Linked DNA regions of Homo sapiens: regions 1, 2 and 3 are each linked to region 4. Evidence: fine-mapped expression QTL. A gene starts in region 4. Each other region holds a variant in brackets. All regions are shown on one strand. Distances are between the middles of the regions. Region 1 overlaps MYO7B (myosin VIIB). Region 2 overlaps MYO7B (myosin VIIB). Region 3 overlaps MYO7B (myosin VIIB). Region 4 holds the start of MYO7B (myosin VIIB).

What was found. PIP is the estimated chance that this variant, and not a neighbour inherited with it, causes the effect.
Region 1: its variant is the best candidate, but not a certain one, in a credible set for the expression of MYO7B in whole blood (INTERVAL, PIP 0.65).
Region 2: its variant is the best candidate, but not a certain one, in a credible set for the expression of MYO7B in subcutaneous fat (GTEx, PIP 0.74).
Region 3: its variant is the best candidate, but not a certain one, in a credible set for the expression of MYO7B in whole blood (INTERVAL, PIP 0.50).

The regions. Positions count from the first base shown.
Region 1 is chr2:127,622,298-127,628,087 of GRCh38, reverse strand. It overlaps MYO7B (myosin VIIB), which reads right to left. Exons shown (of 48, transcript NM_001393586.1): 29 at 4,713-4,886; 30 at 3,768-3,995; 31 at 2,553-2,720; 32 at 996-1,113; 33 at 778-904. It overlaps MYO7B-AS1 (MYO7B antisense RNA 1), which reads left to right. Exons shown (of 3, transcript XR_923314.3): 3 at 1-2,091. Among named protein-coding and RNA genes, the nearest start is that of MYO7B-AS1, 5.6 kb to the left of the region's middle. The variant A/G (reference allele first, on the strand shown) is at 2,826.
Region 2 is chr2:127,572,734-127,580,869 of GRCh38, reverse strand. It overlaps MYO7B (myosin VIIB), which reads right to left. Exons shown (of 48, transcript NM_001393586.1): 7 at 6,808-6,950; 8 at 4,162-4,275; 9 at 2,584-2,737; 10 at 48-124. Among named protein-coding and RNA genes, the nearest start is that of MYO7B, 41 kb to the right of the region's middle. RefSeq lists enhancers at 2,615-2,664, 2,713-3,266. The variant G/C (reference allele first, on the strand shown) is at 3,595.
Region 3 is chr2:127,612,823-127,620,958 of GRCh38, reverse strand. MYO7B (myosin VIIB) reads right to left here. Exons shown (of 48, transcript NM_001393586.1): 27 at 493-619. Among named protein-coding and RNA genes, the nearest start is that of MYO7B-AS1, 14 kb to the left of the region's middle. RefSeq lists an enhancer at 711-760. The variant C/G (reference allele first, on the strand shown) is at 1,810.
Region 4 is chr2:127,531,394-127,539,529 of GRCh38, reverse strand. MYO7B (myosin VIIB) reads right to left here and starts at 3,847. Exons shown (of 48, transcript NM_001393586.1): 1 at 3,699-3,847. RefSeq lists an enhancer at 2,965-3,815.

The DNA of each region.
Region 1 (5,790 bases), 90 kb before region 4:
AAAGGTCAGAGCTGAGATGAGCTGCCGGCTCTGCCATGTGCTTACTCTGAGCCACCTAACCTCGGCGTGCTTCAGTTTACTCATCCGCTCATCTGCAGAATGGGTGATGCTGTCGGTACTTCGTGGCATACAGGAAAGTGCCCAGCATGGTCAGCCTCAGTGAGAGGTGGCCAGTGGGGAGTGGTGGCCACTGTACACCTGGCACAGCCCAGAGATGCATGTGCCACTCTGTTGTGTGCTTCAACCAAGGGGCGCTCTGGCAGGGCTTGGGTGGGACTTCCCAAAGGGCATGGAAAAGTTCCCAGTCAATGAGATCCATGGAGACCCATGGGAGTGGGGGTCAGCCCCAGCCTAAGAGGACCCCCAGCCCTGCCCTGTGCCCCAGGACACACCAGGCACTGTCCCTTGTCGCCTTCCCAGACAACCTGTACCCTCCAGGCCACCAGTTCTCGTCCATGACAAAGAAAGGAGCCTTCTAAATAAGTGCCCGCCAGAGGCTGCACGCTTCCCTGCCCCTTCCGGGTGGACCTGGGTTTCAAAGAGAAGCTGCCAGTGCAACGCGTGATGCCCCAATGGAGTACTTCATGGGCAGTACGGCCTGGTGCAGGAGGGTGGGGCTCCGAAGTACAGAAGCCATCGCATACGTAGATTCTTGTCCCTCCACCCCGGCCTGTTACCCGGGACGGCACACTGCCCCTCTCCCCATCTCTCCCCGAGCCCCCAGATGCATCACAAGGACTCAGTGTGTAAGAAGAGATCTTCCCTCAGGGCCCGCACCTGTTGGTGGCCAGACCCATGACCTCTGGGAAAGAGAGTTCCAGCAGCATCTTCTCCTGCTGGTCCAGGAAGCAAAGCCCCTTCCAGTTAACAGCCAAGATCAGCTGCGTCTTGGGCAGGCGGGGGCCTGGCCAGGAGAGACGGCAGTGTGAAGGCTGCATGGGACCCCTGGGTGCCCAGCCCATACCTGCTCCCTGCCCCCTGTCAGATGCCATTACCTGAGAGTGTGATGACTTCGAAGAGCCGGGAGAAGAGCAGCGGCCACTGCAGGCGGGCGGCGTCCACCACCTGCTCTCGCACGGCCAGTGGTGTGACTTGCTTCTGAGTGTATGGGGCCTGAGGGGGGATCCTGGATGTCACCTCCGTCACCTGCCTTCCCTAGTGAATCCCTCACCTAGTGCTCAGGGTAAAAGAGTTGATGGATCCTTCTGAGAAGGCTCTACAAGGCCAGTGTCTGGAGATGGATCCTGTAGGGAGGCACCTGGGACGTCCCCAGGGACTGGTGCAGCCCTATCCTTTTTTTTTCTTTTTTGAGACAGAGTCTCGCTCTGTCACCCAGGCTGGAGTGCAGTGGTGCGATCTTGGCTCACCGCAAGCTCCGCCTCCCGAGTTCAAGCGATTCTTCTGCCTCAGCCTCCCGAGTAGCTGGGACTACAGGCGCGTGCCACTGCGCCTGGCTAATTTCTGTGTTTTTAGTAGAGGGGGTCTTGCCACCTTGGCCAGGCTGGTCTCAAACTCCTGACCTCAGATGATCCACCTGCCTTGGCTTCCCAAACTGCTGGGATTACAGGCATGAGCCACCACGTCCAGCCTGGCGCCACCCTATTCTACCTGGGAGGGGTGTGGGGACCCTTTAGGAGGAGGGAGGAAGGCCATCCCGTCCCCTCATTAGCATCTGTAGGGCGGGGCTGCGCTAGCTGTGGAAGGCGCTGTCTGTGTGCCCCAGCCCAGGCTCGCTCTTGCCAGCCTATGCCTTGCAGGATTGTGACTCGTTCCGTGCAGGAGGGCATCTTGCTCCGAGTCTGTGTCCCGGGTGCCTCTCTTCTTTCTTCTCTGGAGCTCTTCTGTGTCTCTGGGGGCCTCTCTCGGGGACCACCTCTAGCTCCTTGTCTTCCAGTCTCCTTCCTTCCTCTTTCCTAACTCCCCACCTTCACCCGTTCCTCTCCCCAGCACCACTGTGCTGTGTCCATCACCGACTATAATATCCAACCGAACTCTCTTTTCACTGTTGAATACAGCGTTATTTCTTAGAAAAGTGGCTGGGTACTATTCATATACTGGCTTTGGGAATGTAATAAATGCATCAAATCTGAAGGGTGATTTGAAAATATTCGATATGTATCGAATGTTTAGAATGTCCATACACTCTGGCCTGGGGGGTTCCCATGCACCCAGCGAGGGGATGCTGAGGCCCAGAGGCAGGCAGGGGGGCCCCCAAGGCCATGGTATGGTCAGCAGTCAGCCACTGCAGGTGCCCTCTCATCCCAAGAAGCGAGGGCCTGGCCAGACACCACAGTGCAGACCAGCACAGGGACCCATCCAAGATGCCAGCTTGGAAGGAAGAAGGTGGCATGGGCCTGTGACAGAGAGCTGAACTGAGTGGGACTGCTTAAACCTGAAGGGACAGGGCTCTACTTAACTGTCAAGCTGAGGCTTGTTGTTCCCCAGGGGGTGGGGGTTGTGGGGAGGGAATCCATCTCCTCTGTATACCATGAGCCCCCCCACCTCCCAAAGGAGAGCCCTCGGGTGGGTGCCTGAGCTGCATGCAGGCTGACCTTGGCGCAGGCGGCAGTGACGAGGCTCGCCCACCTGTCTGGGGGCTTGGTCCTGTACAGCTTGTGGGGGATGCAGCTGGGCAGCAGCTCCTGGACAGCCTTGCTCTCTGCTGAGGCGCCGAGCTGCACGTAGCAGTGCCGGGCCAGCAGCTCAACCAGCTCTTCCTCCTGCACAGCCCAGGGCACCCACGGGGGCGAGTGAGACAAGTGAGAGCTCCCCCCTTCCCCAGGATGCCCCTGTCCCGTGGCCGGGCTCTTGCCCCATCACAGGGG[A/G]GCTAACCTGTGGCTCGGGCAGGACCTTCCCCCTCCCTGCATGCCCTGACTGGGCCACCATGCAGGCTGGGAATCCCAGAGGCCTTGGCCAGAGCCTCACAGGCCCTCTGCCTGAGGACAACGGCTGCTCTCCAGTTCTGGGGTGGACCCAGCAGGGTTGCTCTGAGTGACAAGGCGTTTCCTCATCTGAGTTCCAGTCCTTGGTTGTCAAGGGAGACCAGTAGCCCCCCTTGCGGAGTTTCTGCTGGGGCCCAGCTGGGCAGCACCCAAGGAGCCCCTTCCCTCTGGAAGACCAAAGCCTCTTGGAGCCTGGTCCCCTGCCACCCCCTGCCCATGCCTCTTCCAGGCGGGCTTCCTGCACTGCTATGGCCGCCTCCAATGGGTCCCGGAACAGCATCTGCCTGACTTGGCACAGGGAGGGTTGTGCCTGCTGCCCCCAGAACTTCAGGGGTACGATCACTCTGCTTTCTCACAATCCCCTACAAAAGAGCTCCCGGTACACTCCGCACGGTCCAGGTGAGAGCCCCTCCCGAGCCCCCCAGTCAGATGAGGGCCCAGGGCTCTGCGGTGACAGGACTTTCCAAGGTCACAATGCCAAGAAGATGGGGAGGTGGGATTCAGACTTAGGTGTTAGGGCTCCAAGGCCATGTTCTTGGCCACCAGATCTCACTGCCCCATAAACAGAGCAGGAGAGGTGAGGCCAGGCAAGGCCTGGGCCCTCTGGGACCTGCTGCCAGAACCACGGACCCCGGAGGCTTGGACATACCTGTGGCCTAAGGGAGGAGGAAACAGAGGCTGGGCCTGGAAGGGACCTACACCCTTGTGACCCCCTTTCCTGCCCCCCCACCTTCTACCTGGCCTCAGAAGCCAGTTGGGTGCCTCCTCTATGGGATGTTTCCTGATGGCAAAGCCTAGGGTGGACCTGGCTCTCAGGCCCCTCACCTTCTCGAAGCTGTACTCGCCAGACCAGACTCCTCGGAGGACTTGGCGGTAAATAAGCTCGGTGCTGACAGGGTCCTCCCGGGAGTCGTGCCAGGGGGTGAAGAATTCCTTCCGGAAGTAGATGCGCCAGGGTGACTGGCGCTGGCTCTCGCCCCTCTCCTGGGCCATCTGCTCACACCGGGCGATGGCATCCATCATGTGGTCGCGCCCGCTGCCCAGGGACCAGAACTGAGGCCAGAGTCGGGGAGCAGGGGTTAGCGGCTGTTGCATGCCCCACCCCACGGGGACGCCCACCGTCAGCGTGTGCACGTAGAAGACAGGGCCTGGGGCCCTTGGAGCCCAGCGTGGGCTGAGTGGACACTGCTGAGCCCGTGTGGACACCTGAAGGGCTTCTCCACACAGCAATGGCCCATCTGCCACTCCCCATTACTCTCCCTGCAGCCCCTTCCCTAAGGAGGCAGACATGAGTCTGGCCGATGTGACTCATCCGGCGCCTCGGTTGGATGACTGGTGTGTGAGTCTGAGGGTGTGGGCGTGGAATTGGGGGTGCCTATGTGGGCGGTGAGGGTCTGTGCTGGTGTGACCCTCCATGTTTGCTGCAGGGGTGTCCACAGCTCCTGGGCATGAGGGAGTTTGGAGCAGGAGACTGGTGTGAGTGCCTGATGTCTGTGCGTGGCTGCTGGGTGGGGGACCAGGTGTGCATGCGGCACTGCTGGGGCTGAGGCGCAGCTGCAAGGTGACCATATGAGTGCGGGAGGAAAGGCTGTTTGCTCTGTGTGTGTGCACCTGCCTGTGCCTGGTGGCTGGGAGGGTAAGCAGTGCTGTGCCTGGCAGCTGGGAGGGTAGGTGGTGGCCGGGCTGGAAAGGTGAGAGGGCTTGAGCCTCAGGGTGCTCTCCCTGGGTGTATGAGGGAGGCGGCTGACGGGCAGGGTGCCTGGCTGGTACCTTGTCGTACACGGCGACCTGGAGGGAGAAGCCCAGGTGGTCGCTGAGGCCCTGCTTGTGAGCGATGTGCATGCACATTTCCCGAGATGTGGAGGCTGAGTCCACGGGGACGGTTAGGCTCTCTCCAGTGGCCAAGATGACTTGGATGGGGATGTGCTTCTTGGACTTGACAGCCTGGGGACAGATGAGATTCAGTTCCCTGGCCTCTTGGAACCTATGGACAGGAGGCCAACCCCCCATCCACTACCTCCCTCCTCTCCCCAGCCCATGGGCCCTGCTTGCCATCCCGTGGGTTCCCAGGGGTGGGCCCTCTGAAGCCCCAGGCCATGGGCTTGGCATAGAAAACAAAATTCAGGCCAACAGGTGTTTGCCGCTGGAAGCACAGCAACCAGGCAAGAGCAATGTTAGCCACAGGCGTCCAGGTCCTCCTGGACCTCCAGTGGGGGCAGCCTGAGGCCATAGTGGCTGCTTTTATGAGAATCCTGAGCTTGGTGTGGTTCAGTGACTTCACCTCACAGAAGACCAGGAGCTCTTGGGAATCTGAGTCCAGGACTCGGGAACATTTTGGGGCCTTTACGTATTGTTCCCTTGTGTCAACATGCACAGCTACTGCAAGTTCACCTACAATTCCAGGGCTCGTGGGAGGGAGCCCCTGTGGGCTCGGGGGCAGGGTGAGAACAGAAAGAAGGTGCAGCGGAAGTGACCCACAGCTCCTGGTATAGGGCACCTCGGGTCACAGGGCGGGCACCTGCCGGGGTTAGGCTGGGGCCAGAGCTTTGTGTAGAGCCGGGTGCAGGTGTGCTCTCGCCACCCTGGCTGGCTGTTCTGAATGACCCTTCCTGAGAAAACAGCGAGAATTCACAGATGACACAGTTGCCAAAGCAGGTCGAGGTGGCACATGTGCCCAATAGCAATGCCACCAAGGATGCCAACCATGGTGTGACTACTGCCCTTGTCACCAAGTGAAATGCCCTTGGAGGGGAGTGCTGGAAGCAACTGGCGCACTGTAATGCTAATGAGTGGGTCCGGTGATCTTCCCCTTAGCTAGTAGGGCCCTAAAGGAATATGGATTTGGAGA
Region 2 (8,136 bases), 41 kb before region 4:
TCTGAGGCCCCCCACCAAAATGGAAGCTGTGGGCACAGCACCCCTACCTCCAGTAACTTCATCACGGTGGGAAAGGCGGGCGTCTCCATCACGTCTGAGGCGTCCAGGTTCTCGAAGACCGAAGCTAGAGAGAGAAGCAGGAATGCTGAGTTGGAAAGCAGCCTGGAGCGATGGGAGCAAGGTCCCGACTGGCCCGGGCCCTTGGCAGCCCCAGATCCACTCAGGAGGACAGCTGCCCTGGCGTAAGCCACGGTCTCTCCCAGTGTCCTCTCTTTGAGGGAGCCAACGGCCCCATGACCATGGGTCATTCACACCTTAGCTGTTGATGAACGTGGCAGACCACTTCCTCTTGAGGAGACCAGGGCCCTGGGTCGAAGGGAAGTTTAAAGAAAGGTGGGCTTATTTGGAGGGAGAAGTCTGACTTGGGAAACACAGCAGACACTGGCACTGGAGAGATGAGCCATCAGGCCCCTCAGTCCATGCTGCTGGGTGTGGAAACCCGGACATTTCGTTATTTATTCAGTCACAGGAAGCAAAGCACTAATGGAGCTCCAGCTGTAAGCCAGGCCTGGCTCTATTGCAACCGTCTCCTGACTGGCCTCCCAGCTTCCAGTTCCTCCTCTTCAACCAACGTCCAGCTTAGGACGTGCCAGGCTGGTGGGGGACGGGACCTTTGGGTGTCTTTGTTTTTGCTTTTTTTCTTTTTTAAACTGAAAAAAATTGGAGATAAAATATACAGATAAAGAAGTGCATAAAACACAAAGCTGTGTTGTAAAGAATAAAGTCAGCACCACGTAACCACGCTAAAGCCAAATCTAGGATCTGCCAGCACCCACAGCCCTCCGAGGTCCTTGCGGGCTGAGACTGTGTCCCTCTCCTCCGGAGGTAAGCACCCTCCCGACTTCTAACTTCCTAGCTTTTTATTCCCTACATAGAGTCCCTAAACAGCATTTAATGTGCCGGCTTTTAAATGTTATGTTAGTGGGCCAGGCGCAGTGGCTTGTGTCTGTAATCCCAGCACTTTGGGAGGCTGAAGCAGAAGGATCACCTGAGGTTGGGAGTTCGAGACCAGCCTGACCAATATGGTGAAACCCCATCTTTACTAAAAATACAAAATTAGCCAGGCTGTGGTGGCAGACCCCTGTAATCCCAGCTACTCAGGAGGCTGAGGTGGGAGAATCGCTTGAACCTGGGAGGTGGAGTTTGCAGTGAGTCGAGATCCCACCACTGCACTCCAGCCTGGACAACAAAGCAAGACCCTGTCTCAAAAACAAACAAACAAACAAACAAACAAATGTTATGTTAGTGGATCTGTCTGCATTCTCTTGTGCCTGCTTCACTTCCTCAGCATCATGTTTCTGATGCTGTCCCAGGCCCCGGTGCCCACCTCTGGTTAGCACCCACCTTTCCCTGGCCGAAGTGTGCAGTCTGGCTGATAGACGACAGATCAGCCCAGCTGCAGCTTGCCTGGAAGCAATATTCTCACATGGCGTGAGATGGTGGCCCAAGCTTTTGTTTTCTATATGGACACCCCATTGCTCTAGAACAGTTTATGAAAAGTCTATCCCTTCCCATTGCTTTGAGAATGGTCTCTCCTTAGTTCTGGAACCAGCCCTATCTCTTCAAATATTGCCTCTGCCCCTTTCTCTCTCCTTTCCTTTAGGACTCCAATGAAAGGTGTGCTCCCTCTGCCACGGTGTCCTCCCAGTCTCCACCTTCTCTCTGACATCTCCCGCCATTCCTCTCTCCATGCTGTACTCAGTTTCTCCTGACTTTCCCTCCAGCTCACACATTCCATCTCCTAGACAGGCACAGAATCCCTTAAACCATCCATTGGGTTCTTCCTTTTGGTTATTTTTTTTTTTAATTTTAGAATGGAATTTCTATGTGGTTTGTTTATAAATCTATAATGTCTTTAAAGTTTCCCATTCGCTGTCTAAATTTTCAAGCTTGGCTGCTTCTTTTCTTGAGCAAAATAAGCAGAACTTCTCTAGTCTGTGTCTAATAATTCCAACTTTGAAATCTTTGTGGATCGATTTCTACTGTTTATTATTTCTGCCGGTTCTTGTTCATGGTATCTCATTTCCTTGTTCCTATTTCTTCCTGGCTTCATGCTGGATGTTGTGTTTGAAAAACTACTCACAGGAATCATTTGTAATCTAACTTGCTGGTGCTTTTTTCCAGCGAGGACTGTCAATAACTGCCGTTAGGTGCTTGGGGGTGTTCACAGGTCAGGACAACTTAATCCCCAGACCACCCCTTGCTCACAACCTGGTTTGCAAGTTCACACGTGGATTTGTTTACTCTGGCTTACCTGAACCTTAAGGGGGAAGCCCTTTTGGGTCCCAGCTAAAAGTGGGGGATGATTGGCCGGTCTCCACCTGTGGAGAGCCTTAAGCTTTGACATTTTCCCCTTTGCCTCACGAGGCCTCCAAAATCACAGCTGAATTTTTTAGATATATTTTTCCAGGCCTGGGTTGGACCACAGGATCCTTCCTGTGAGAACCCCTAGAGATGCCTTCCTGCTCCTGTCCCCTTCCCTCTCCCTCCCCAAGGGTGCAGTTGGGGCAGAACCGGCATTACCCATGAACCCCACATTCCCCAGGTGGAGAATGGCAGCCAGCAGCTTGATGACGTCCCAGCTCTCGGAGTCGGAGAACTGGAGGATCTTCATGGCCGAGCGGATGTGGGCGTAGTCCTTGGCGTCGTTGAGCCCCTCACAGGAAGTGCAGTTCCCCTGAGGGACAGGGTGCCTCAGTGAATGGGGCCATCCCCTGCCCCACCACCTCCCTCCTGGGACCAGCAAGGCTGAGACACTGCACTTCATAGGCAATGGGTGGACCACGTAGGGTCCACGCTCAAAAACTCTTTTCAGAGGCAGAATCATGACACAGTAGCCACAGCATGATCAGGCCTTGCCACCAGCACCAGCATTTGGCCACTGTGTGACCTTGGCCAAGTCACACTTCTTCTCTGATCCTCTATTTGTCGTTCGTCCCTACTCGAGCTTGCCTTGTCTCTCTGGGGGACACTGTGGGTTTGTTCCTTTAAGAAACACTTTCCATGGCTCGCCATGGGCCAGGCCCTGTGCTGCGCATCCAGGGGGGCAGGCAGGGAGCCAGTGACCGTGCCATGGCCATTTGCCTGTTACAGGTGCCCAGACCACAGGGGCCGGGGCCAGCCCTATCGAGAGGTGGAGAAAGGCTTCTTGGAGGAGGTGCAGAGCTGGCCCCACCGCCTCTGAGGACAGAGGGCAGTTTAGGCAGAGGATGATGGGAGCAAGGCCACGAGGTGGGGAGGCAGGGACAGGGCTGCGGGGAGGCTGGGGTGGGTGTTGAGAAGGGAGAGGTCGGCAGAGGGGCAGATCTTGGAGGGACCTGGAAACCACATGGAGGAGTTTGGACTTCTACCCTACAAGCCGCAGGGGTCACTGCAGCAGTGCCATCCAAAGCATGACACTACAGTGCAAACCTTCCTACAGGAAGAGTGCTTTGGCTGCAGGGTAGATGACAGATTAGAGGTCAAGACTGGCGATGGGGGACCCATGAAGTCTAGGCAGGGGCTGGTGAAGGCCTTGGAGCAGTGGACCCAGGA[G/C]AGAGGGTTGCATGGGAGAGATCCCAGAGGCAGAATGCTCTGGGTCCACTCTGTGGTCAATAAACCAGGAGGCGCAGTTCTCCTGAGGGCCAGGGAGCCTCAGCTAATGAGCGATGGCTGTGGTGCCGCCCTGTCCTAGGTGGCGGGTGCAGCTGGGAGCACAGGAAGGGCTTTGCTTTCCTGGGGCCCGGGGCTTACGTTTTAGGGGGCCTGCAAGGACAGACAATTGGAGTGAAATCAGGAGCAGGAGGCATGTGGGCAACTCCCTGTGGCCCACTGGGCACCGGGAGCCTGTCATCCAGTGGGGACCAAAGGAAGATGAGGTCTGCGGGGAGGCCCCGGGTCCAGCCTGGGGCATGGGGTACATGTGACGGGGAAGCGGGAGGCACGCGGGCAAGGTGATTCCCAGCAGAGAGGGGCTGGCGAGGAGAGGCAAAGGGAACCAGCCCCGCCTCAGGGGCCCGGCCAGCGTTGGGCTTCTCTGCAGCTGTCGCGGAGGGTGGAGCGGCACAAGCTCTTTTTCCTCCCTTCCACTGGCTACTGGGAGGCGGCAGGTGGGCAGCTCACCATGGTCAGGTAGTGGTACTCGGAGGGCGTGCCCAGGCTCAGCAGCTGCTTGTCCTCAGCACTCACCCCCATGAGCATGCAGTAGAAGATATGGTAGTTCCGCTCCTCGGGAGCCTGGGAGGGAGGGAGGGCATTCCAGACAGATTCATGAGCCATTCCCCTGAGGCCTCAGGGCCTCAGACTGCCTCTGCCCAGCCCAGCCCTGGCCTCCGCTCCACATCTCTCAGCCAGGAGCAGCTCTGGCACTGACCCAGGGCCAGCCTGGCTTGGTTGCTGTCCCTGTCCCGGGCCTCCGCGGCTGTCTCATCCCTGCCCTGAGAACTCCATTTCCCTGCATCTTGACTGCTCCTCGAAGCCCTGACACTGCTGTGCCCAAAGTCTCCAGGCCAGGAGTGATGGCACAGAGTCGGGGCTCTCTTATAGTCCCACAGTCTTCACAGGCACTTAGTGGCCCACGAGAGATCTGACAGCCACGGGGCTCCCTAGGCCTTCAGTATTTTTTTTTTTTCCGAGAGAAGGTCTTGCTCTGTCACCCAAGCTAGAGTGCAGTGGTGCAATCTCAGCCCACTGTAGCCTCGAAGTCCTGGATTCAAGCCATCCTCCCACCTCAGCCTACCAAGTAGCTAAGATCACAGGCACACACCACCACGTCCGGCTAAGTTTTGTATTTTTTGTAGAGATGGGGTTTTGCCATGTTGCCTAGGGTGCCTTCTGTATTTTTTAAAACACTATTTATAAATGCATTCTCATACAAATCAAACAATCTGAAGCATATGCAGTAGTGTTAAAAGATGGGAGTCTCAGTTGGGCTGTAATCCCAGCAGTTTTGGGAGGCTGAGGCGGGAAGATTACTTGAGCTCAGGAGTTTGAGAGCAGCCTGGGCAATATAGTGAGACCTCACCTCTACAAAAAATAAGAAAATTAGCTGGATGTGGTGGTAAACACCTCTAGTCTCAGCTACTCAAAAGGCTGAGGTGGGAGGATCAAAAACAAAAAAATGAGAGCTCCTTTCCATCCTGCCTTCCCCTTTCTTAAATCCCCTCCTCCCCGCCCCAGAACCTAGACATGTTTTTAAAAAAACATTTACTTATAGTATATCTATAAATAGTTATCTCTTTTCTTTTCTTTGTTTCTTTTTTTTTACACAAAACATATTTGTGGTTCTGCTACTTCCTTTTTTTTCACCTAAACATATCTCTTGGTGATCCTTTACATTGACATGGACAGACCGCCTCCTCTGTAGTATAGATATGCCGTAATTTTAAATTCTTTCTCTTTTCTTGGGCAGGCCTTGTTTCTCACCTGCTTTAGAAATTTCCTGCCCATTTCAGGGTATCATTTTGGGTGACAAGTTCTATGAACTCAGCAACCACTATATCAAGAAATAGGAGCTTCCAGACAGGGCAGAGAGACTCTGCCATCTGCTGGCTCTGTGACCCTGGACAAGGGGCCGAACTTAACTGGACTCAGTTTTCTCATCTGTACAATAGGGATAAAGAGACCTACCTCTCATGGTTGTGAAGGTCAAATGAGATAAAACAGGAAAAGTATAGCACCAGGTCGGAGGGTCACTAAATGTGACCTTCCTTCTCAGCTTGTCACAGTGCGGAGGCATCTGTCCCTCTCACACAGCCACAGCCCCTCTGTTGGTGGCATTCTCCCCTCTGGACCCCTTCTGTGTGTGTGCACTCATTTGCACACATGCATGTGTTAGGTGTTATGCCATCATACGAGAGCACCCCCTTACACTCACACACACACACAGGTGCATTAATTCTGCTGTTGTGGGTGCCATGTGTTGGGATTCCTACCATTTGGGACTGGCTACATGATCGCCCAGTGCAAAAGGAAACCATGGGCCCTCTTGCTAAAAAGCTAGTAAGAATTTCAAGGTGGCAATAGCAGAGCATGAAACCAAGCATGGGGCCCCCTGAGCACAGGGCCTGGTGTGACAACACAGGCCACATGCCACTGTACTTCCTGGCCATGTGGTATTTGGGATACTGTCATCTGTGTCTTTCTGCCATGTCCCCTAACATACCTGAAGATACGGCCCACCCAACTAGCCTAGTCTCAGAATTAATTCTAGTAGGGATGAGGAATGGTAGGCACCAAAGAAAGAAGAAATGTATGTGAATGGAAAATTCAAAATGGAGAAAAGTCTTTTTTGAGACAGAGTTTCACTCTGTTGCCCAGGCTGGAGTGCAGTGGTGCAATCTCAGCTCACTGCAACCTCTGCCTCCTAGGCTCAAGCAATTCTCATGCCTCAGCTTCCCAAGTAGCTGGGATTACAGGCGTGTGCCACTGCCTAGCTAATTTTTTTTTTCATATTTTTTGTAGAGGCAGGGTTTTGTCATGTTGGCCAGGCTGATCTCAAACTCCTGGCCTCAAGTAACCCACCCGCTTTGGCCTCCCATAAGTGCTGGGATTAGAGGCGTGCGCCACCAAGCCCTGCTCAAAATGGAAAAATTTCTATCATTTGCTGTCCTGGAATACTGGGGAAGGGCCCTCATTATCCAGTGAGGCCTGTGGGTTCTGGGAGGGCCCTTGGGGAAGAGGGGAGGAGAGGTGAGAGTGGGAAAGGGGCCCCTCTTGGAAACCTCCCCCATTCCCTCAACTCCCGACCTGGGAAGGGGGAGGCCTCACCTGCCGGCAGACCCGGGACTTCTCCAGGAGAAATTGCTCGATGCGCGCGCCCTCGATCACCCCGCTGGGGTTAAAGTAGATGTCAATGTACTTCCCAAAGCGGCTTGAGTTGTCGTTGCGGATTGTCTTGGCATTTCCAAAGGCTGAAGGTAAGCGGGCGATGCCCATGATGGGAGCAGAGAGGAGAAAATGTAATTTGAGTGGGATCATGTAAGAGGGCTTCTCAGAGGAGGTGGCCAAGCCTCGAATTGAAGAATGGGCACGGCTGCACCAGACAGTGACGGAAGCCAAGCGCCCGCTAAGAGGAAGACAAAAATGCAGGGAAAACCTCGGAGGTCAGAAAAAGCATGGAGTGTGCTTGCAGACGCAGAAATCTTGTCAGAGTGTGGGATGCAGGAGGAAAGCAGTGGAAGGTAGACAGAACTAGTTAGTAGGTAGGGCCAGGTGGCACAGAGCCTTAAATGCCGGGCTCAGAACTTGGGCAATCATTCTGCAGTAATAAGGGAAGCAGTAAAGCTTCTGAGAGAGTGTGGGAGCAGATTCACAGCTTAGAAAGATGGCTCAGGTTGCAGGGCTGAGGCTGATACGGAGAGGCCAAGCCGGCATGGGGAGTGCCAACAGCGTGTCCAGGCCAGGGCACACGGAAGTGGTCAGTCTTTTTTGTAAAGCTGTTTCTGCAAGTTTTCTGATGTGATCCACAGTAAGAAAGATATTTTGCATTACATCCTAGTATATACACATGTCCACCTGCACACACAAAGTTAGAACAAAATACTCAGTACTAGTTCTTATGAAGAGTGACGTGCTGGGGTGTTTCTATTCTATGATATTTGATTTGTTCTAGAAGACTGATTTTATGGCCCATTAATGGTTAGAATGCAGTTTCAGAATACCAGCATCCAGCATAGTCCCATGAAACGAAGGAAAAGGGTTCCTTGGGGAAGTAGGTTTAGGAAACACGGCACCCTGTCTCTCTCTCGAGGAATCCCAATGCACAGCAGAGCCTCTGAGAAGTGCCACCATTACGAAACCTGTTTAACTTATTGAACCCAGTGTGGCCATCATGGGGGCGACTGGTTGGGTGTCTCTTTAAGAAAGAATCTGATGCAGGCAGTTTTTTTTTTTTTGGTACTAACTGACAGGCTGATCTTAAAATGTACTATATATGGAAAGGTAAATTACCTAGAATAGCCAAGTTTGAAAAAGAATAACAAAATTGGAGGGCACATGCTATCTGATTGCACCGCTTCCTATAGAAATCAAGACAGTGTAGCACTGGTGAAAGAATAGACAGAGAGGGGAATTGAAGATAATAGAGAATCCAGAAAC
Region 3 (8,136 bases), 81 kb before region 4:
TTTATTTTGGTTTTAGATGTTCTGCATTTCCACATATTACTTTTATAATCAGAATTTAAAGGCATATTAAATCAGTGAAGCTTGGGGCCACTAACACTCGGCCAACCCAGCTCCATTTTCAGTCCTAAGAACTAGAAAGAGGTGCCGTGGCACATCTCCAGGCAGGGCCCACTCCTGGACACCTGTCTTTTCAAGGCCCGTGTCATCTACCTTCTCATTTTAGTCTTGAAGCACCATCCTGACACCTGAGCCAAAGTGAAATGGCCCTGCAGACCCTGCGTAGGGGCTGGAAGGAGCCAGGAGCAGGGTCCTCTTTTCCAGATGGGGAAACTGAGTCCTGGAGAAGCATAGGCATGGCTGCCCATCTGGCCTGCAGGAGCAGGAGAAATGGGCCACGTACTGGAATCTGTGGACCTGCTCCAGGGCCAGGGGCCACCTACGCTCCCACCAGAACCTGCCCCCTGCCCGCCCTCCCTTCATGAACCCTCTCACCTTCATGAACCTCTCTGAGGGTGGGAAGCAGCCGAGGCAGAGGCTGAGCAGGATCCAGCCCCGGGCCAGGCTGCTTGTTTTGAAGTTCTCCGAGAGCTGCTTGCAGATCTGGCAGTAAATCTCATCCCTGAAAGACACAGACCATTAGGAGAGTAGGCTGGGGGCTGGAGGAGGAGAGGAGACAGGGGTACCTGGGCACACAGCTCTTGTGCACCTCTGAGAGGTCCCATATGCAGGGCACCTCTCCAGCGCCGGGGCCCTGCCCAGCCTCCTCCTCTCTCAGGACAGTGCCACCAGGCTCTGCATCCCTACTCGATTCCTCTCCCATGGCCTGTGCTCTCGGTCCTTTAGGGTGGGGCTCGGCTTCAGGAAGCAGCAGGTTCTCCAGCCACAGCCCTGTCCTCAGCAGCCGCGCCCTTTGCACAGCCCATCTGCTCCCAGATGTGCGGGATCCCCAGTCTCACGGTGATTACAGTCATTTCTCTCTCTGCCTTGAGGCCCCACCTCCCTCCCTGAATGCAGCCCCTCCCCTCCACAGCAGAGAGAAAAGTGAGGACTTCATGGGAGCCACTCAACCCCATCTCCTGACCATTCCTACTCCCACGGTCTGTGGAGCCTCCCCACTCCTGGTGGGGGTGTGTTGGGGGCGGTTCTCTCCTGCGTCCTTCCCCATGGACTCAAGCCTCTATCATGTTATAAAAGTGGCCCATTAACACCTCAAATGCCACATCTCCAGAGGCCAGCATCTTTCCCCTAATACTCAGTGGTGTGCTGGTAAATGTTTATCAACCAGCTCCCCCAAGAAGAAAAGCCCAATTCACAGCATTTGCTTATTTCTGTGGTGTACATGTTCCCACCAAAGCCAATGTCAACTGCGACACGACATCACCGAACAGAGATGGGAAGCAATGTGCATGGCTGGCTCTCTGAGTTCCTGCATCCCTCCTCTTTCTGTGGTCTACAGGCATCGCCATCAGCCATTCACCCAAACTGGAAATCTGGGGGTCATCCTGGAGCCCTCCCATCCCTTCATTCCTCCAATCCAACCAGCCCCCACCATCCATCCAGCCCCCACCACCCAGCCGGCACCCACTACTCAGCTGGCGCCCACCACCCAGCCGGCCCCCACCATCCAGCCCCCACAACCCAACCAGCCCCCACAACCCAACCACCCCCCACCACCCAGCCAGCCACCACCATCCAACTGGCCACAACCCAACCAGCCCCCACAACCCAACCACCCCCCACCACCCAGCCAGCCACCACCATCCAGCTGGCCACCACAACCCAACCAGCCACCACAACCCAACCGGCCCC[C/G]ACAATCCAGCTGGCCACCACAATCCAACCAGCCTCTACCATCCAACCAGCCCCCACAACCCAACCAGCCCCCACAACCCAACCAGCCCCCACAATCCAACCAGCGCCCACCATTCAGCCAGCCCCCACAACCCAACCAGCCACCACAATCCAACCAGCCCCCACGATCCAACCAGTGCCCACATGCTACCATCTGTCTCCTGCATGTTTCCTCTGTCCCCTCCTCTTGGCTCCTGTTCCTTGGGCAATTCCTCATCAGCTCTCTCTGGATCTCTGTAGCAGCCCTGCCTGGCCTCCCAGCCCCAGGCTCCATCCTGCCACATCGCCAGGGAGGTCTTTCTGGAAGTCAAATATGATCAAGATCCTCTCTTGCTTAAAACTTTCCCCACTTCCCTTAGGATGGAATCCAAGCTCCATGCCCCAACAATGGCAAACCACTCATAAATTCCAGACCCTGTGGGCTGTCTCAAGGGTGACTGATGCAGGCCGAAAGAGTGAGGGTCGTGATCAGCTCAGTATACCACTGGAGGCTATATGAGCAAACAGCAAACTGTTCTCATAAAAGCAGAATGTTGGCAAACTGACAAACTGCGTCTGCCGCCCAGAAGGAATGCTGAGGGCAGTCACGACCCAGGCACAAGTGTTTCTTGTGATTATCTACAGGGCACACCTGAAGCCTGTTAGTAATAATATGAACCTGTGATCAGTTAAGCAGCTGACCAATCGTTACCTCCTCCTCCCTGCTTATTCTACCCAATAAATACTAAGGGCTGAAGAAGCTTGGGGTGGGGGCTGTCTTTGCTTACTAGGAGTAGGGAGCCCTTTTTCTTCCCCTGGCCCCTTTAAAACAGTTTCTTTTGTTTTAAGTTTTCATTTCTACGTTCATCCCCCTTCGTTCCGTCTCGTAATGACGGTCTCAAGTAGTGACAGTAGTAACTCCCGTAATGACGATCTCAAGTAGTAACAGTGGCAAATTGCTGCAAGTGCTGCCTGGACAGGGACGTAACAGGGACAATCAGGGACAAACAGACCTGAAGGGACCTGAAGAGGCCTGCAGGGACAAATAGAGATAAGTAGGGATAAATAGAAATAGAGACAAATAGAGAGAGCTAGGGAAAGACAGGGACTTGCGGGAACTAACAGGGACTATAGGGACAGATAGGGATAGACAAAGACTAGCAAGGACTAGCAAAGACTAGGAGAAACTTGCAGGGACAGACAGGAACAGATAGGGACAATAGGGTCCTATAAGGACTTGAGCGAGGAAGGTCTGCTGGAGCAAAAAAAAAAAAAACTAAAGCCCAGAAAAAACTAAAACCAACCAGATGAATAAGAAACCCCGTTACAAGGCCGGGCGCGGTGGCTCACGCCTGTAATCCCAGCACTTTGGGAGGCCGAGGCGGGTGGATCATGAGGTCAGGAGATCGAGACCATCCTGGCTAACAAGGTGAAACCCCGTCTCTACTAAAAATACAAAAAATTAGCCGGGCGCGGTGGCGGGCGCCTGTAGTCCCAGCTACTCGGGAGGCTGAGGCAGGAGAATGGCGTGAACCTGGGAAGCGGAGCTTGCAGTGAGCCGAGATGGCGCCACTGCAGTCCGCAGTCTGGCCTGGGCGACAGAGCGAGACTCCGTCTCAAAAAAAAAAAAAAAAAAAAAAAAAACCCCGTTACAAGTCTGCTGGCAGCATAAGGTCAGTGCTTTAAAAAGGTACTGGTCAGTGTCCTAGAGGTACAAAGAACGGGAAGTTTTTCAATCAGGGTAACATGGGGAAGAATTTGGTTCTCTTCTCTTTTTTGTTTGGAGTTTGGTACATACCATTTTCTTGTCATTTCAGGGTTTGAGAGAATTTTTTGCCCCACCTACAGCACCTATCGAAAGTGGTGAACGGGAGAGGAAGGATGAAAATTGGCTTGTACCGTCTTCTTTTGCAGCTACAGAAAGGCGAACTTTAGCTTTGTCTTTCGTGGCTTGTAAACGTGCGCTGGTACCTGTGAGATGTGCAGAGGACTTGGGAGGTTTTCTCAGAGCTTGTCAAGATGTGGGAACTGAGCTTCATTGCTCTGCAATGTTGACTCAGGCAATGGCTAATTTGGTAACTGACAGATCTAAAAGAAGCCAAGGGTTAAGCCCTAAAGTGGGAAAATGTTATAAATGTAGGAAAATTGGACATTTCAAAAAAGAACACCGCCAGACCTCTGGGCAAAAGGGATCTTATAACACGGTTCCCCTCCCAACAGAAAAACACCAAGACTTTGCCCTCATTGCAATAAAGGAAATCATTGGGCTCATCAGTGCCACTCAAAATTTCATCAAAATGGCACCCCCCTGTCGGGAAATGAGAAGGGGGCCTGGACCTGGGCACCTCAAACAATGAGGGCATTCCCCATCCAGGCCACAGCTCTGCTTCAGGGGTGGGTCTCCGGAGGCACATTAATTCCCTCTCTCCAGGAATGCCTGGAAATGCAGGATTGGATCTCCCAGTCGGAGTGCGTTACGTTAACTGGAGGAGACAAACTCACTAAGATTCCCACCGGTATCTGGGGACCTTTGCCAACAGGATATGTGGGATTAATTTTAGGTAAAAGCTGTCTTAATTTACAGGGCATTATTGTAACCCCAGGAGTTGTTGATTCGGATTGTGAAGGAGAAATTCAGGTGGTGGTGATATCACAAGGCCTTTGGGTTTTTGAACCGGGAGAATAAGTTGCTCAACTGTTGCTTATTCCCTGTAAATTGTACCCTTCTCTACGTAAGAAGAAGCGAGGAGGTCAGGGATTTGGAAGTACAACTAGGAGACAGATTTATCTATCACAACCCATAGCATCTAGTAGATCCACTTGTGCAGTGTAAATTGAAGAAAGTAGATTTTGTGGGCTTATGGATACGATCTCTCATGGTAATAGAGCTTGAGGATTTTTTTTTATTGTTATTGCAGGAGAAGGATAAACTCTTGATTTGTTTTCTCTGTGCCTTCTGTTAATCAGAAAGAGCCTGCCTCTTGCTATCAGTGGAGTTTTACCCCGCGGTAATTAACCAAAGAGGCAGAAGCTGAGTTGCAGCTTGTGGAGCGGATGCTTCAGCAACGGCATGCCTCCCGGCTGCAGCCACAAAAGCCTTTGCTTCTGTTTCAGGAGATTTACTATTGTGGGAACGAGGGTATGCTTGTGTTTTCACAGGAAATGAACAAACCATGTAGGTGCCCTCAAGTTGTGTGCGACCATGCAACGGGAGACTGGAGGGACCTGTGGATCCCAACCACGGGCCTGGTTCCCCCAGTACCAGCTGAATGCGAAGACGGAACAAACCACCAACTGGCAATTAAGGGCTGCACAGCCTGCAATTGCCTTTCTCAATTAATTCAAAACAAAAAGGGAGAGATGTTGCAGGCCGAAAGAGTGAGAGTCGTGATCTAGTATACCACTGGAGGCTATATGAGCAAACAGCAAACTGTTCTCATAAAAGCAGAATGTTGGCCAACTGACAAACCGCGTCTACCGCCCAGAAGGAATGCTGAGGGCAGTCACGACCCAGGCACAAGTGTTTCTTGTGATTATCTACAGGGCACACCTGAAGCCTGTTAGTAATACTATGAACCTGTGATCAATTAAGCAGCTGACCAATCGTTACCTCCTCCTCCCTGCTCATTCTACCCAATAAATACTAAGGGCTGAAGAAGCTCAGGGCGGGGGCTGTCTTTGCTCACTAGGAGTAGGGAGCCCTTTTCTTCTTCCCCTGACCCCTTCCTTTAAAAGTTTCTTTTGTCTTCAGTTTTCATTTCTACGTTCATCCCCCTTTGTTCTGTCTCATAACGATGGTCTCAAGTAGTGACAGTAGTAACTATCGTAGCAATGGTCTCAAGTAGTAACCATGGCAGTCTGTCACGGGTGACCCGTCTACCCTTTCCCTCTGTCTGGCAAACACCCCTCCTCCTTCCTTGGCCCAGGTAGGCACTAAGGCCACTCCTCCTTGGTGCACCTGTGGGGCCCTGAACAGACCTCCATCTTAGCACTGGTCCATCTTAGGACCAGGAAATTCACTGGCATTGTGAATTTCCTGGTCCTCTCGTGCCCCCCAGCTAAAGGGTGAGCTCCTCCAGGACAGAGCCATGTCTTCTTCATCTCTGTCCCTGGCCCTCAGGCTGGGGCCTGACCCAGAGTGGGTAATGAGCAAGTGTGTGTGGAATGTGTGACAGATGTGGAACAGGGCATCTGCTTTGTCTGGGAATTTCACCAAGGCCCTGCAGCCAAGGACAAATGGATGCTCATATCCGACGTTCTAAAGAGACACATTCTTGTAGGATTTACTAAAAGGTGGCAGAACTAGTGCAGCCACCAAGCCACCTCCAGCCTGCATAAGGGAAGATAAGAAATTTGGAATGTGATTCCTGGAAGGGACTTCATGGGGATAGAGAGATCTGTGGCCCATTTCCACTCCCTGTAAGTGATGAGGTTGGTGAAGGGGACCCCAGGAGAACTGGGGGCTGCCAGAGAAGAGACCCATGTCACTCCCCATCTGATGCCTGCTGAGCTCCAGAAGCCCATTTGCCACCTCCCAGGGTACTAGAATAGAGCCTGTTGATTGAGTTCTTGCTAGTGCTTGACTTTTGTACTCTGGAGTTAGGGACCTCCATGAACAAAGACATTAGCGCCTGCTTGTTCCTGGAGAATTCTGAGCCCATCCTGATGGGCAAGGAGGAGAGAGGACAGGAGATGGGAGCTGTACATGTACTGTATGGTTGGGCAGGCATGAGCTTCCTGCTGACCAAAAGATGTCGTGGAAGGAGCTGAGCTTCAGGCATCTAGATGGGATCCCACACAAGCAGGCAGCCCATTTTCTAGAAGACCCCAGCAGTAAGAGGCTGTGGGATGTTCCACTTCAGCCTAGAGTCAGTAGGAAGTCTCAAGGGATCAGTGTTGGACAGTATCACTGCTGGACACCAGCACTGTATGGGAGTGCCTATAGGGGGTGTCTGAAGAACCCAAAGTACACATCATTCGAATATAGCTTTTATGTGTCTGCCATATTGGAGGGTGTGGTGTGGTGGCCAGTGAGGATTAACCATGAGAGAATTAGAACCAGCTAAGTCAGAAGACTTGCCCAGCTAGTGTCATGCAGGCAGCTAAAACTTGAGAAGCCCTGTAGTCTTACTGGCTTGAAGAACCAGAGGAGAGAGTTTAGGGTACCCACAGTAGCTTGAAAGTGAGAAGGGAAATCTTGGAATAAAGACAATCAGAGGAGTCCTAAATTTTGCACATAAAATCTTCCCAAATCTCTGGTTGCCCCCTGACACACATGGTGGGGCAGACTCCAGGTACTCTAGCCAAGGCTAAAATAACTAAAAAGGGATTCTAGCTTCTGCTCATCATGGAGGAGACAGAGTTTGAGTCCAGCCAAGGTAGTTGCCTCCTAAAACAAAAAATCAATGCTCTTTGAAAGAGTATAACAGAATCCAGAGTCTCTAACGTATCATCCTCAATGTCCAGGATACAACCCAAAAGTACTAGACTTATGAGGAAAAAACAGTCAAGTACCAGATATATGAGCAAACAAACACACCACCATCCTCAAGAGAAAAGACAGTTAATAGAGACTGACCGTGAGATGACCCAGGTATTGGATTTGCAGAAAAGATTTAAAAACTACTGTAAATCTGCTCAAGGATATAAAGGAAACAATGCTCATAGTGAATGAACAAATAGGAAATCTTGGCACAGAAATATAAAAAAGACACAAATACAAATTCTAGAACTGAAAAATACAATATCTGAAATAAAACATTTGTTGGATGGATATGACAGCAGACTAGGGAAGACAAAAGATCAGTAAATTTGAAGACAGGTCAATAGAAACTATCCAATCTAAAGAACACAGAGAAAAAAGAAAGAAAAGATAAGCAGACCCCTAGGTACCTGAAGAACAATATAAAAGAATCTTACAGAGGCTTAATTAGATTTTGAAGGAAAGGAGAGAGACAGAATGGGGTAGAAAAATATGTGAAGAAATAATGACCAACAGTTTCCCAAATTTTGTTAAAAGTATTAACCTAAAGTAAGTGAACCCCTAAAACACAGTAGTCAGTCCCTTAAAGCAGTGAACAATCAGTCTCTGCATGTTCGGATTCTGCTTCTACGCATTCAGCCAACACGGATGGGAACTGCAGTGTTTGCAGGCTGACTATACGTGTTTCTTCTAATTGGTATAGAAACCCATTCCTATAAAGCAAATTGTATATAAAGCACAAAATGTATAATATAAATGAGGAAGCCATTCATTTACAGGGCCCTGCACTACAGCCTGTTCTAAAAGGAATCACTGGTCCATGATGA
Region 4 (8,136 bases):
AAAAACTCTCCTGAATTTCCTGTTATAGCCAATGTCGTTTTCTCCCTTTTTATCCCCTTCATGACATTGCAACAGGAAAGCTGGTCTTCCCCTTGGAAACTGGCTTTTGCCTAACTTGAGAACATTATTAATCTTTACTGCATAGTTTTGTGCGTGACTATCTGGAAGTTCAGAACAAATTTTGTGTCTATGCCTAGCAAATATATGGGATTTTCTGATGTACATTTTGTTTACTAACATTTTCCCAGCTGCAGTGTATTTTCCTACCTTCATTTATCCTACGTCCCAGCTTATTTTATTTTTGATTCTGTTGTATTATAGGTATACTGTAAGCTGCCTCATATCACTCTGTTTTGTTTAGTATTTGAATAAGGCAGGCAAGGGATGAAAGAGAAATTGACAGATACATATACTTGTGCATGAACCACTGCCCTGTGGTTCCTTTTCATACCCTCAGTACTCTGCCCCCAGCCCCCAGAACAGAGTAGGAGCTCAGACAGACACTGTGCTGAAAGTTTTCCAGCACCTGCTCATTAGTTTGATCTGTAAAACAACCCTGCAAGGTAAGTGATGCTACTCCATTTGATAGAAGAGGGAACTGAGGCTTAAGGCCCCACATTTGGTAGGTGACTGAGTCAAGATTTCTTGACTCAAGATTTCTGCAGAGCCTGGTGCAGTGGCTCACGCCTGTAATCCCAGCACTTTGGGAGGCTGAGGAAGGTGAATCACATGAGGTCAGGATTTCAAGACCAGCCTGGTCAACATGGTGAAACCCCATCTCTACAAAAATACAAAAATTAGCCGGGCGTGGTGGTGTGCGCCTGTAATCCCAGCTACTCGGGAGGCTGAGGGGGAAGAATTGCTTGAACCTGGGAGGTGGAGGTTGCAGTGAGCCGAGATCATGCCATTGCCCTCCAGCCTGGGCAACAGAGCCAGACTCCATCTCAAAAAAAAAAAAAGAAAGAAACAAGATTTGAATCTGCAAATGTTTGGCTCCAAAGCGTTTGCTTATTCCACTTCACCTCTCTCTTAACCTGATGAGCAAGACCCTCTAGGTTGCACTGTCCGATATGGTAGCCACTAGCCACATGTGGCTATTTAAATTTAAATGAGCTGAATTAAAAATTCAGACCCTCAGTTGCACTAGCCACACTTCAAGTGCTCAACAGCCACTTGTGGCTAGTGGCTACTGTTTTGGACAGTGCAGAAGAGAACATTTCTATCATCATGGAACGTTCTAGAGCATATCTTACCACCCCCCTCAACCGTATTTCATCCCTGCCAGGCGCCAACAGTGCCCAAGCCTTACTGGTACTTCCTTTGCTCTGTATCTTTGCAGCTACCACTTCCTCCACCTGGAACATCCCCCGTTCCCCACCCTCATCCTCACACCATCCTCCCCTCACAGCCTGCTGCATCCCTTCCCACCCCTACCTGTCCTCAGCCCCAGGACCGCCTCCTCTGACCACTCAATGCCGGAGGTCTGTGCCTCTGGTGTACATGGGTCACTTTTCCTTCGCAGCCTCGCCTCCCCAGCTGGCAGTGAAGGAACACACTACACACTGCTGGAAAGGCAGACAACAGAGTCTACAATGACACTGGATTTGAAAACTTGACTTCATCCTGAGCTCGTCTTCTGCCGCTAGCTACTCCATTCATTCATTCAGCATGTGCCAAGTGTCCATTCTCTGCTGAGGCCTGGGCATGTGCAGGAGATGGAAAAACCCCAGAGAAACCCAGCCCAGGCTCTCGAGGAGCTCATAGTCCAGTGGCCTTGGTCAAATCCTTCCTTCTCCTCCTCCTCCTTCTCCTTCTCCTCCCCCTCCTCCTCCTCCTCTTCTTCTTCCTCCTCCTCCTATTCCTTCTTCTTATTCTTCTATAGAGATGGAGTCTCCCCATGTTGTGGGCTCAAGCAATCCTCCCACCTCGGCCTCCCAAAGTGCTGGGATTACAGGCATGAGCCACCACCATGCCCAGTCTCCTTTACCCTTCTTCATCTCTTCTGTGAAAAATGTGCTAAGATTCTGGCTCTTCCTCCCTGAACAGCTTGGTATGTGGACCAAGAATGGGCACACAAACATCATTTAAATACATGTGTTAAGTAAAATGTATGGAGGCCATTGGTTTTGTCTGAGCTCCTACACAAGGCCAACAGACCAGACCAAAATGGAGTCACTCATGCTGAAGTTCCACACCACCAGGCCCAAACGAAGGTTATCTGACCTTCCAAGAATCAGGAGAGAGACAATAGCTGGAGCCCCAGACAGGCCAGTTTCAGCGGGCATGATAAGGAAGTTCCCTCAGCTCTATCCTTTACAAGGAAAATAAATTGAAATGACTAATCCCCTTTTGTTTTCTGTTTCTCTCAGCCCCATTCTGTCTATAAAGCCAAACTCCTCTGCTCGGCTCATCAGATCATTCATTGTATTCTATAAGTGGGGTGTTGCCCAATTCTAGAATTGCAAATAAAAGCCAATTAAGATCTTTAAGATAAATTTTTTATAATTTTGTCTTTTGACATATGTAAAACAGGAAGCAATATCAACACATATAGGTCATCCCTGTGGTGCCGCCTCTCCACAGAGCCCCGTGCTAGAGCTGTGGATGCAGCAGGCCCCAAGACAGCCGCCTGGGGAGGATTCTCTTAGAGGTGGCATCTGAGGACAGACGTAGGGCCCCCAGCAGGTCCAGGGAGATGGGGTGGGCTGATGAGCTGAGTGGTTCCTAACAATGATTCACTGAGGGTGTGTGTGAATCTCTGAACTAAAATCCTAAACAAAGTGCAGGGTTCTGATAAATTAGAGCAAAATTCAAGTCCAGGGTTACAAAGTGGAGCCTGAAGGGGAGGCCTCGTCATGGAGAATTTGGGGGATCTGGGTTGGGGGCCCCACACCCACCAGCTGTCTGACCTGGGCCAGCTCTCACAATCTCTGTGTCTCAAGTTTCGTCCTCTGTGAAATGGGGATGGGACACACACCACCTGGACAGCTCAAGGGGGACAGCCCATGTGAGCCCCGGTGCGGTCCCTCTCCTCAGCCACCTCTTCCCCCACCCCCCCCCCCACCACACCCCAGACCTGTCCTGCCTCTCCCTAGGGTCCCAGCCTTCCAGAGGTGACTAAAGCCAATTGCCCAAGGTACATGGGTAAGGCGGATAAGCCTGGGCTTTGGAGTCGAATCCGGCTCTGCTTCTTCCCGTGGGCACCTTCGCTTCCATGGTCCTCAGTCTCTGTGTCCATAAAATGGAGGCAATTCCACCACTGTGTTGCGAGGACGCAGTGGGATGTCACACACGGCACAGCTGACATCTGGCAGGGGCTCATCATGGGACCCAGGCTATCCATGATGTCCCATGATTCCACAGTGAGGCCCTCTAGCTGTGAGGAGGCTTCAGGGTGGGAGCAGCCTTGGCACCTGCCGTTCCCCTCCTGCAGGGAGTTTGCCCTTCTACAGCAGAGGGCTAGACAGCTTCTCCCCCTCCTCCTCCTCCTCAGCCCCCCAGGTGCTGCCCTTCAGCCCGATGGACTGAGTCCCCTGCTGCGGTTTCTGGTTTCCAGGCTCCTGAAGGGCTTCTCCACTCTCTATCCCTCAGACCTGTTCCATCTTATTTCCAGGGGACCTGCCTCCTGCCCAGCGACCCTCTTCAGAGAGGTGACCCCCTACTCCCCGCTGGCAGACACGCCCCCGGCACGCCCTTACCTTGTCAGGATGGGGGTCTGGCTGACTCCCCTTCCCCTCCACCCTGGGCACCCTGAAAGAGCCAGGAAAGGAGGCAATGTTGGGACTCCGGGTGTGTCAGGGAGTAAGGGACAGAGGAAGAAGAGGTAGGGCTCCAAGAGGAAATGACTGGGAGCACTCTGGGCCCACGTAATTTATTACAGGACTTTGTCCCTGGGCTCCAGGCACTTCCACTCCCACACGCCTCCCTCAGCCCCAGCTGGCAGAGCCTCATGATACCTGCTCTTTAACCCAGGCCCCTTCTGCAGAGCAGCGATGCATGCTGCCCGGAGGCCACCAGGGTTTGCAGTCTGTGCACCTGCTCTGGCCACCAGCCAGATCCCATGGTGACAGTCAGCTGACCATCCGGGGGCTCAGCATCTTCCCAGGTGCTGCATGGCAGGAGCTCTGCCCCCAAGCACCCCAAGCTCTAATTGAGGGTGGTAGTATAATATAAAATACAGTATATTTGGTCCTTGTTCCCGGTTGGTGTCACAGAACTCCTAAAACCCTTAGAATTTCCAAAGTGATCGTCGGGCATGGTGGCTCACGCCTGTAATCCCAGCATTTTGGGAGGCCGAGGCAGGCGGATCACAAGGTCAGGAGATCAAGACCATCCTGGCTAACACGGTGAAACCCCATCTCTACTAAAAACACACACACAAAAAAATTAGCTGGGCGTGGTGGCGGGCGCCTGTAGTCCCAGCTGGAGGTTGAGGAAGGAGAATGGCGTGAACCGGGGAGGTGGAGCTTGCAGTGAGCCAAGATCGGGCCACTGCACTCCAGCCTGGGTGACAGAGCGAGACTCCGTCTCAAACAAACAAACAAACAAAAAATTTCCCAAGTGATCATCTCATAATGAGTCCGTTTGATAACACCTGAAGTTATGCTGAGGAGGTGACCATGTGGGGGCCCTACCTAGCCTCAGCATGGGGTCAGTCACCAGAAAGACCTAGTGAATAGAGGGTTGGAACTTTCAGCCCCGCCTACTGACCTCTGGGAAGGTAAAACTCTTGAACAAGATTTGACAAGCTTCCACACATCTGAGGTCCCTGGGGGGTGGCATGCGGGAGAGGGCATGGAAGCTCCATGACCTTCCCACACAACTCACCTGTGCGTGTTTATTCGGCTGCTCATCTGTAATCCTTTGTAAAATCTTTTCCCACGAACTGGTCAATATGAGTGCCGTCCTGAGTTCCATGAGCTATGCTAGCAAATCCAACCTCAGGTGTGGGGCATGGGAACCCCGATTTATAGCCAATTGGTCAGAAGTATAGGTGGCAACCTAGGACTTGAGACTGCATTTGAAGTGGGGCAGTTTTGTGGGACTGAGCCCTTAACCTGTGGGATCTATGACTCCAGGTTGACAGTGTCTGATTGAATTGAATTATAGGACATCCAGACGGAGTCTGCTGGAGAACTGCTTGGACACCTGGTCAAGAGAGTGTTCTGTGTTGAGTGTGAAAGGAGCATACACCTGGGACATGTCTGGGGCCATCAGGAAGCCTTAGAGACAAAGGCCATCAGACAACAAGGTTCCCAGGAGGGTACCTGGCAACAAATTGGGCAGGCTTGGGCTGGCACTTGATCAAGGGGGATTTGGGCTTAAGGCAAATACAGACTGTTTAGAAGGGAAGTGCAACCGCAGTGGGCCCTGGGTGGGGTCAGACTGGAGGGGCCAGGCAGTCCCTGGAAGTGAGCAGGAGGGCGAGGGGAGCTCATTTATGCAAGGCTTTGAAGGCGGGTGGATAATAGGGGCAGGTAGTTACCTGGTCAGCCACAGGCCTTGTGTTGGGTAAAAAAGGGGTCTGGTCATCCTTACAGTTGGCCCAACTAGAGCCAATCAGATTCCTTTCTTTTCCTTGGACTTGGAGGGACTTGGGAACTGCAGGCAGAAATGTGGGAATGAGCCATCGTCTTTTAGAACTGAGGTCAAGGCAGGGTGGCAACCCTGAACATGGACCTTTCGTGGGGACACAGACCAAGCGGTGGTGGGAGAGAAAAGGAGAGGTGGACAAGCTGCAGAGGTGGAGACCCAGTGGCTCCAGAGACAGGAGGAGACCCCCGATGCCTCAGGGTTTCCTGTGCCTCCTGTGGGTGGGCTCCATGGAGTCCCCAGTTTCCGTCTATTAAATGTTCTCTTTGTTGACATGGCTTGAAGGAGTTTCTGTATCTTAAAACCAAATGGCCCATCCCAAAGACAGGGAACCAAGCTGGGAGATCCCTTGAAGGACCACTTGGAGGGAGCTGCATGTTCCGAGTCTTTCAGGCGGCCCCCTGTCCCGCCTGTTCCCCCTAGAACAGCCCCCCAAGTTCTGCCCTTGCTCTGACTAGCCTCCTGCTCCCTAAAATTTGGTTCGGTTTCTGGGTCCACACTCAGCCTTTTTGAGCTTCATGCTGCACATGGTTTCTCGGGTTTAGAAAGATACCATTTAGCTCCTCTAGGGCTGACGCTGCTGCTCCTGGCAGCTCCCAGAGATGGTGAACCCCTTGCTCTGGGGCTGAGACTGAGTCCTCTTCGGACCTTTTCTACTGCCCTCATGTAAGAAAATATTGGGACAGAAAATCTGTGTGGACCAAAACAATCTGTAAGATGTTCCCATCCAGTTCTCACCTTATGCAAAATTTGACAGAAACACATTTTAGATACTGACCTGCTATTCTCTGTCTCTCTCTATTTTATGTTACACATTATATCACAAGAACTTTCTGACACTGTACCAAACTTTTACCATTGGTCTTTAGAAACAGCGTGACAGTATGTCACACAAGTGCCCCATCATTTGTATACCCATCCTCCCTGGATGGACCCTGGGAGGTACCCAATCCTTTGCTGTCACACACAATACTGCAATGAACATATCTGTGCTCTCAGCGTTGTTTGCATTTTGTCATTATGGAAGATTCCAGTGGGATCTCTGGAAGAAGATCTTCCACTATGGAAGAACAGTGGGCATGAATTTTTGGTTGCTAATATTTCTCAAGTGGCATGCCAAGTCCTCCCTCCCAGTCAAAACTGCGCCTATGATTGCAAGGACCTGGTCTGATTGCTGTGTGAGTTGGTGCAAAGGGGGACACCCTGAGGCATGGTTCTCCTGGAGCCTCAGGCTTTCCATAGCCAAGGGACCCCAAGCCCTGGAAATCAAGAAGATGGGTTGGGGAAAGGCAGGGCAGGCTCTTCCTGGTAACACGGGCGACCAGGCTTGGCTGTCTCCCAGCCCAGTGCTACTTCCACAATTAGCGTAGTGCTCATTTCCCAAGACGCAAATATTCAGCTAACCTTGAAAAACATGTTTGTGAGCTGAGCTGAAATGCGCCCATGGACAACCTATGGTTCATTCCATTCCTGTCAGTGACCAAGCCCATTATAGCGTCATCACAGCGACTGACACAGAGCAAGCCTTTCGCTTCAGCTCTACCAGCATATCATAGAGCTAACTGAAGTCACTTGCTTATGGTGGCCCTAATATTCCCATCTAGGCTACAGCAGCCAAATTATCCATTAACCCTATGAAACAGCAAGGTTGGCAGCACAGACCTCTGCGACTGAACTACTCTTTAGAACATTTTTGAATTCTCAGTCTCAGAAAGAGCTGGCATGTGATAAGGATTTTCTCTGTGCTGGGCTCTTTGCTTGTACCATCTCACTCAACCCTCATCAAACCTCAACAAATGAGGGGTGCTTCTCCTCATTTCATAGCAAGGAAGTTAAAGTCAAAGAGGTTATGAAACTTGCTTAGGCCACACAACCAAAAGTGGCAGAGGTGCGGTTTGAATTAGGGTGTACCTGACCCCATGGCCTGGGCTTATTGGGATGTATTATACCACGCCAACCCTCAGACAAACCAGACCTCCTCCTTCCTCACCCCAGTGATGCATGAGACATCCTATCTTCAGAGATTTAAAAAAAAAAAAGGTGTTTCCCCAACTTGCTGGCCCTAGCCCAGGGTTTGAAAGGCCTTGCCCATTTTGTTGCCTTGGTTTCTGAGATGCTGGGGCAAGGGAATATCTGGGAAGAGAAGCAACGCTTAAATGCTTCCCTGGAAACACAGTTGTGCACAGTACAAGACAGTAGATCACAGGGCACATTCTGTCCTGTAGTTCAGGGTTTCTCAGTCTTGGCATTATTAGCGTTTTGGAGTAGATTGTTCTTTGTTGGGGAATGAGAGGCGTTGTCCTGTGTACTGCAGAACATTTAGCAGCAGCCATTGGTTATGTCCCCACCCCTAGTGGTGACAAATCAAAATGTCTTCAGATATTATTGCCAAATGTCTCTGGGGGACAAAGTCCCAGTTGGGAACCAATATATAGTTCACAGGCCCAGGTGCCATTGGAGGCTGGGAGAAAGAGGAGGCCAACAAAGACCAGAACGAATGTCCTCCCGGAAGAGGTGACCCTGACCCTTGGGCTCCTTCAATGG